Linked DNA regions of Homo sapiens. The protein of the gene in region 2 interacts with the protein of the main gene of each other region in a biochemical or structural test. Each region holds a gene or a part of one and is shown on either strand. Other genes may lie near its edges.

Region 1 (3,815 bases), about 57 Mb from region 2:
AAGTAAACTAAGAAAAGAGTACACTACACTCCTTAACTGGAGTCACTGATGCTGAAAACGGTAAACGAATGCAAAGACGTGAACAGTCTCGCACAGCAGAATACGCGGCTATTCCCAGAGCCACATACCACACCTGTTTTTTTTCTTCTTTCTGCATTTCCCAAGAGTTTACGACATGCTTCTGGTGAAGGTCCAGCTCCATCTGAGGATGGAAGGGGGACGATGTGAATTTCCTCACCAGACAGATGGGCACTGTGGGGACAGTGTGCTCCTGCCCTCTGTGCCACCTGCGGGAACGTGGCCATGACTTCGCTTCATGGGGACTCAGTGGCACAGGCGTCTAGTAGAGAGCGTGGGGTGACTTCAACATGTATAGTGTGAATGCATGTCAATCAGAAGACCAAAGGACCAGGCACTCCTACACCAATCTTTTGAGCTGGTACAAAGTAACAGAGACTTCCCTCCCACTAGCCCTAGGGTTGGGCTGGACGCTGAAATGGAAATACAATTTCAAAGGCCACCTTGGGTTGATGTACTGCATGCCAGGCCCTGGGAGACAGCTGAGTGAGAAGACTCAACCCTGTGCCTGGCTCCCCGAAGTTTCCTCTGCAAAGCAGATGGACTACGTACTCCCTGTATCAAGTGATGCACCAGTAGGTGCAACAAGTTTAGCATTGTTAGTAAGAGATTTGAGCGCAGACAATCTCCTGGATTAGAAAATGGATCACAACATTCAATCCAAATCTTTTGTTTGGGAAACTGTTTATAAAATTAGCTGGATATGGTGGCGCCCACCTGTAGTCTCAGCTACTCGGGAGGCTGAGGTGGGAGGATCACTTGAGCCCAGGTTTGAGACCAGCCTGAGCAACACAGGGAGACCCTGTCTCTATAAAAAAGTTTTAAAATAATCTTTCCCAACTTACAGCTGTGAACATAGGCAATTAACTTGAATGTTCTGAATAAACTTTTCTGATTTAACGGCTCTGGATGATTCCACCGAAGCCAACAGGGCTAAGGAGTCCTCCCACAGATTAGTGCAAACTGCACAAAAGCACCAGATGTTCCATTATTTAGTGCCTGGCGATTTCTAAATGTAACTACGAATAACACGAAGGCACCAAATGTATACAAAAACTGTAAGTTGAAAATAAATGAATAACAGTGAGGGATGATCTCCCTGCAGCCAAATCTCCACTGAACAAGGCCACCAAGCCAAGAGGCCACCCCCTCCCCTGCCAGCCCAGTTCAGGCCTTCACCAACCCCCGGCTGGGCTGTCGCAGCACCCCTCCCTGTCGGCGGGCACATTGCTACCAGAGGAGTCTCTCTGAAATGCAGCTGGGATCCTGTATGCTGCCCCCAGCCCCTTTGGAGGAAGGTCACACAAGCTCTTCCGATGTCTGGCACCCTCTGCCTCGCCAGCGTCATTTCTTGGGGTTCTCCCTCACTATCTGACATCCTAGCCTCACCCAGACACTTTCAGCTCCCAGGGCTCGCTCTGTTCTCGAGTCTCAAGCCTGGTTCTCACAGTCACATCAACCTAGAACATCCTTTCCTCACCTCTACACACATACATCCCTTCAAACTCTTCCACCCCAGGAACTCCTCTGGGAAGCCTCCCCAACCCCTCCAGAGTTGAGTGCGCTGGCCCATGCTCATCCTCTCAGGCTGGCCCAGCACCCTGCATCCTGCCCTGTAATGAGCTCCCATGCTGGACACAAGCTAATGAGCAGAAACCATGTCTAATCTCCATGCCCGCACCTGGCAGACCAGGCAGCGGAGGTTCAATCAACATTTGTTCAACAACCGAATGAGCCGCTCAGCGCAGCCTGTGCCAGATCTTCTGCCTGGCGCTCTTTTCAGGTGGCTCAAGGTTCCCTCCTCTGTTTCAACCCGGTACAAGATACGTGTTCAAAAAAAAAAGTGTCTGGAAACATGATTTCATCTACTTAGATAAATCAATGGAGATCTCTGATTTTCACCTCTCGAAGTTTCGGGTTGTTCTTTTTCCAGTGTTCGTACAAAAGTTGTTCAGCAATCTATCAAGAAAACACAAAATGGAAAGCCTGATGTCATTTTTCAAATCCATTCACATTTTGGATGACACACAGTGGAAGTCAGCTCAGGCTATGAGTGCCTCCCTTCACACCGTCACTGCAACCACTGTTCAAACCCTCATGCTTCACATGCACAGCTCTGAGAACCACATGGCACTACCAAGTGACTCTTGCAATGATGACAAAAGGGGGCCAAAATCTGATGCTACACAGAGGTCCTATCTAGGGGGTCTCAAAATAATACAGCAGGCTGAAAAGCACAGATTAGGGCTCACTGTTTCACATAACTACTTTGGAAGGTAAAACAGACTAGTCCCAGATCTCTGTGGACCCACAGAACTGGAAGAAAGGAAAAGCACTCAGATGTAATGATTGAAGGGGCTAAAGAGACTACAGCTAACTGATCCAAAACCCAGTCCCTGCACAAGGACCTAAGCTCTTTTCCTGCTGGCTCTGGAGTTAACTGGCATCTCATCAGACCTGAGCACCCAGGAATGACCCTACATGTGCGACACACTCAGGCTGGGAACACTCCTGCTCCACAGCCTCCTGAAGCCCTCTGGGGAGTTACCAGTTTCCTCTGCTCTTCTTTGGCTGATTTCAGCTTCCCGTGCTGCTCCCGGATTCTTCTTTCCTGCAAGTTCATGCTCAGCCTCAGCTCCTCCAGTTCTCTGGCCAGCAGGTCCTGCTCCTCCTGCATGAGCTGCCTGAGCTTTTCCCGTCGGGCCTCCAGACTCCTCCTCTTCTCCTCCTTCATCTTCTCCCGCTGATAGGCATGCATGCTGGGTGAGAGGGGGCCTGCCTGAATCAATCATGCTACAGCCACAGGGAACGTGCTCTGCTCTGCTGTGTCGGTAAAAGAGGCTGAGGTAGATGTGTCATGACGACACAGGAATGTGTCCCCAGCCAAAGCAGAGACAGCAGGTCACAGAATAGTATGTGTAAGAGAAAATCTTGTTTTTTGCAAAAAGAAAATGTATAAATGTATAAATAATGTATATATTATCCATCACATAAATCCTACAGCATAGGTCTGCTGTAGCCCCACTTGATTGATGAGGAAACCAAAGCTCATACATTCAGCAAGAGACACGGTCAGGATTTCCATCTAGGTCTGACTTCAAAGCCTATGCTTTTGGCCTCCATGTTTTTACACGTATTTCTATAAAAGTAGCTTTGTGTGTGTATATTTAAGCACAAATACCAGTGGGAAACAGCATGGAAGGATATGTGCCAGACTGTTAACTGTGGCTGTCTCTGGGGATATGGGGTTACAACCAGGCTTCCAAATTCTATCATATGCTTCTGCATCATTTTATCTTTTTCAATGCCAATGTATGGCTGCACTGATGATCTTTTTTTCCATTTCCAGCTGGAAAAACATCACCATGCAGGTAATTCATACTGCCTGGCAAATCCTACGCTCCCTAAATCCTTAAGGCCTCATCCCCTGACCAGCAAGTGGTCCCCACTTCCATCCAATCGGCAGTTACCGCACAATTACCTCCGCTGGTAGGAGGTTTTAGAGCTCCATTCTGCCTGTTTGGAGCTGCAGATGTCAGACATCCTGAAGTAACGGCTGTTCTGCTCCCACTGCTGCCGAAGCCGGGCCTCCTGCTCTCGCTGTCGTGCTAGCTGCTGATTCAGGCGCTGCTGGCTGCACCAGTAGGACGGCAGCGTCGGGAGCGCCATCTGAGAACAGGAATGGGAGGAAAGTGAGCCACTGCAAATCCCAGGAACCCTCACCAGCTTGGCCTCAT
Region 2 (3,897 bases):
AGAATAGGACCATCTCTTCTGAGCAACATGGATTTGGTTTCTTTGGATCTCTATCAGAGCCTTAGGCTTGCTATCTGTGGATCTCTAACAGAGCCTTCTCCTATGAGAAGGAGGACATTTTTTTCTTCTACTGTCTTCACTCTTCAAGGAATAAGCATCTGAGTTTTGGCCTGAGTCTTTGAGCTCTTAATTTGACCAACTCGAATGTCTCCAACTTTTCCCTGTTGTGAAGATTCTTGTGATGCACATCTGTGTGCATACACCTTTCTGAATTTGTTCTATTTCCTCAGGATATATTTCTAGAAGTATAATTACGGTTCAGTGTATGCACATTTTAATTGTGCTTGATACATGTTGTCAGGCAAGTTTCTTGCTTATGAGGGCAATTATAATGATTAATCACATATCTGATTCTTTTGTCAAATAACTTGCTCTAGTTGGCCGAGAATATGTTTCTTAACTGGACAATTAGGCTGAGCCCTGGCGTAAGGGGAAAAGTGGTCCTGGAAACCAAGGCAGAGGGAATGGGATGCTAGTTCCTGGTATGGTCAGTTAAAACGGAGTGGACAATGCTGGTGGACCAGATGCCTCCCACTCCATTTGCCAAAAGTTCATATGGAATTTGATCTAGAAATACACTCTGAATGTCATGATACCAAGCTGAAGTTTGATGAACCTCTCTAAAGGAGGGGAGTTATGTGTATAAAGAATAGATTATCTTTTAAAAACAACTATTCACTTATCAGATAAAAAAGTTTAAGCCCAAAACTTTGGCCCCAAAGCAAGGCAAAGTAAAAGAATATATTGTATTATAAATCTGCTTTATTTAGCAATTGCAAACAGCGAAGAGCACAGAAATCATCACAGAGATACAGGCTTTGTACATCATAGGACTAGTCACTTGTGCTTTCATGGATACTGCCTGGGTGGGGGTTCACAACACTTATAAGTTAGAGAGTTTGAGAGCCAGTGGAAAGTAAGTGGAAGTTGTTCTGAAATAAGCCCCTGGCAATTTTCTGCAATGAAAAGGAGCAGAGGTCATTTTCTTATAATGCTCAGCCTCAGAGATAGAACACTGGAGGCAAGAAATTAATAATTTAGTAACAGTGAAGCTCCAGTGGTGATTACATCATGATGTAAAATCAGAGGTTGATCTGATGGTGAGCAATGGGTGCTCAGATGGTATAGAGAGAGAGAGAAGAAGTGAGGGCACTAAGCATCCATACCCAGCTCTACCTGGGACAGCAGGGGAGACTGGAGGCCAGGAGAGGAAAGGCAACCTGAGGAGAGGGCTCTGCAGCCAGAGAGGGGCCTGAGGACTGTGGGACCGAGAGCTAGCAGACGCACTTTAGTGCTTATAGCTCTTCCTGCTGGAGGAGGAGGTGGTGGTGTACTTGATGGTGGAACTGCCGCCTCCAACAGAGCTGAGGCCACCCCCAATGGCTCTGCCACTGCTGGAACTGAAGCCACCTCCAACGCCAAGACCACTGCCATAGGAGTAGCTGCTTCCTCCACCCAGGCCTAAGCCACTGCCGACACCACTGGCACCGCCATAGCCACTGGAGACGGTGGACTGCACCACAGCTGTGATGGGGAGGGGACAAGGACACAAGAAGCCATGGTGAGCTCATCCTGTCAGCCTGAGCCCAGTCAGAAGAGTGCGAGGGCAGGGGAGGAAGGCAAGCAAAGGTACTTACAGATGTTGACTTGTCCAACGCCTTCGCCATTCAGCCTGTGGAGAGGAACACAGGGAGGGTGAGACCTCAGAGAGCTCTTCCTTCCCTGGACCAGCGTGGGCAGCCTCGGTGGGTGGAAGAGTCCATGGGAAACTGCTCTTTTAGTTTTCTCTCAGGAAGAGCAATTATGGCCATGGGCAGTGCACCTTAAAGTTGTGCTCAGTGCCAGGAACCTTGAAGATGGACTCAGCTGTTGAAGGAGTTCGTGTCAGTTACCCACCTGCACTCCTCACCCTCCAGCAGCTTGCGGTAGGTGGCGATCTCCACGTCCAGGGCCAGCTTGACATTCATCAGCTCCTGGTACTCCTTCAGCAGCCGGGCCAGGTCCTGCTTGGCCTTCTGCAGGGCATCCTCCAGCCCTTCCAGCTTGTTCTTGGCATCCTTGAGGGCCATCTCCCCACGCTGCTCAGCATCAGCAATGGCGGCCTGCAGGTTGGCGCACTGGAAGAGGAAAGGAATAGAAGAAACTTGTCATCCGGTCTTCCAGAGGAGACTAAACCTGGCTGGTTATTTCCTAGTGAAGGGGCCAGGAGCCCAGAATTGATGGTGAATGAGCTCTGACTCTTCCTATCTATTGTTTTTTTTTTTATTTTGCAGTTTTTGTCCAGTCTGGTTCATTTGACAAAAACTCATAACCCTTTTTGTGAACCACTCTGTGGGAGAATGTGGATATTTACTAATGGGAGACACTGCAGTGGACACATACACTGGAAGAAATGTACCTGCTGGTTTGTTTGGAGTGTTGTCTCCACAGTCAAATCAAGACCACTTATGATTACCTCATATAGATGCCACACTAACATACACAAAATTAAGACCATCCTGAAGTGAGGTGATGAGTCTTCACATGAGACTGCTGAGACCTTGCCTTCCTCCCCCTCAGAATCTCTCATCTACTGTTCTTTGTCCTTTGCCCTTCCTCTACTCTCTCTTTCACCTTGAGTCTTGAGCAGATTTGAAACAATGTTCCTTGTGCTTTCTTATCTGCCCTTTTCTTTTTCAATTTGTTCCTTTGCAGTTTCCAAGTCAGTCTTCCTATGGAAATAAATCCAATTCCTCTAGACCAAGCTTGTCCAACCTACAGCCCACAGGCCACATGCAGCCCAGGATGGCTTTAAATGCAGCCCAACACAAATTCTTAAACTTTCTGAATACATTATGAGGGTTTTTTCTTTTTCTTTTTCTTTTTGAGACAGAGTTTTGCTCTGTCACCCAGGCTGGAGTGCAGTGGCGCGGTATCGACTCACTGCAACCTCCACCTCCCAGGCTCAAGCGATTCTCCTGCTTCAGTCTCCTGAGTAGCTGGGACTACAGGCACGCTCCACCATGCCCGGCTAATTTTTATGTATTTTTAATAGAGGCGGCGTTTCACCATGTTGGTCAGGCTTGTCTCTCACTCCTGACCTCATGATCCACTAGCCTCAGCCTCCCAAAGTGCTGGGATTACAGGCATGAGCCACTGGACAAGGCTGTATGTTTTGTTTTGTTTTGTTTTAGCTTATCAGCTATTGTTTGTATTAGTGTATTTTATGTGTGGCCCAAGATAGTTCTTCTTGTTCCACTGTGGTCCAGGGAAGCCAAAATACTGGACACTCCTGCTCTAAACCATGTTTTTGCAGCTCTGAGCATCGTGACTGGTTCTCTCATGTGTTTGTGTCATGCCATAGGTAGGATCTATGTCTCCTAAGCAGCAGGTACCCACTAAGGGTAGGAAATGATAGCCTCCTCTCCCTGGTTTTGATAAGTTCCAGGGGATTTTCCCTAATATAATGGTTGATGGCTGCCTGACGACCTGACAAGGAAATGCTTCTCTCCTCCATTGTCCCTCACCATACCTGCTTCTTGACGTGGTCGATCTCAGATCTCAGCCTCTGGATCATGCGGTTGATCTCAGCAATCTCCTGCTTGGTGTTGCGCAGGTCGTCCCCATGTCTGCCTGCTGTGACCTGCAGCTCCTCGTACTGCAGCCCAGAGGTGGAGAGAGAGACAGTGTCTACGGGTTCTTACCTGGGAGCGATGACTTTCACTTGTGTATCATGCATGTCATGAAGTGGACCTAAAGGCTTCTCCTCAAGAAACTTGAGGAAAAGTTGATATTATGTGGTTGGTGGATACTAAACACTGGAGTCACAGACCATCCTCATTATGGCACCACTGCCTG

Evidence for each region.
Region 1: the proteins of KRT6A (region 2) and TCHP form a complex in vitro, tested with the Homo sapiens proteins (one study listed by BioGRID).

Annotation. Positions count from the first base shown.
Region 1 is NC_000012.12:109,902,959-109,906,773, reverse strand, and holds part of TCHP (trichoplein keratin filament-binding protein), read right to left. Parts: intron 3,748-3,815; coding exon 3,560-3,747; intron 2,854-3,559; exon of another isoform or gene 2,838-2,853; coding exon 2,627-2,837; intron 2,038-2,626; coding exon 1,981-2,037; intron 1,946-1,980; exon of another isoform or gene 1,760-1,945; intron 203-1,759; coding exon 134-202; intron 1-133. UniProt on the Homo sapiens protein: Tumor suppressor which has the ability to inhibit cell growth and be pro-apoptotic during cell stress. Inhibits cell growth in bladder and prostate cancer cells by a down-regulation of HSPB1 by inhibiting its phosphorylation.
Region 2 is NC_000012.12:52,486,372-52,490,268, forward strand, and holds the end of KRT6A (keratin, type II cytoskeletal 6A), read right to left. Parts: intron 3,698-3,897; coding exon 3,572-3,697; intron 2,178-3,571; coding exon 1,957-2,177; intron 1,733-1,956; coding exon 1,698-1,732; intron 1,585-1,697; coding exon 1,349-1,584; 3' UTR 805-1,348; downstream 1-804. UniProt on the Homo sapiens protein: Epidermis-specific type I keratin involved in wound healing. Involved in the activation of follicular keratinocytes after wounding, while it does not play a major role in keratinocyte proliferation or migration.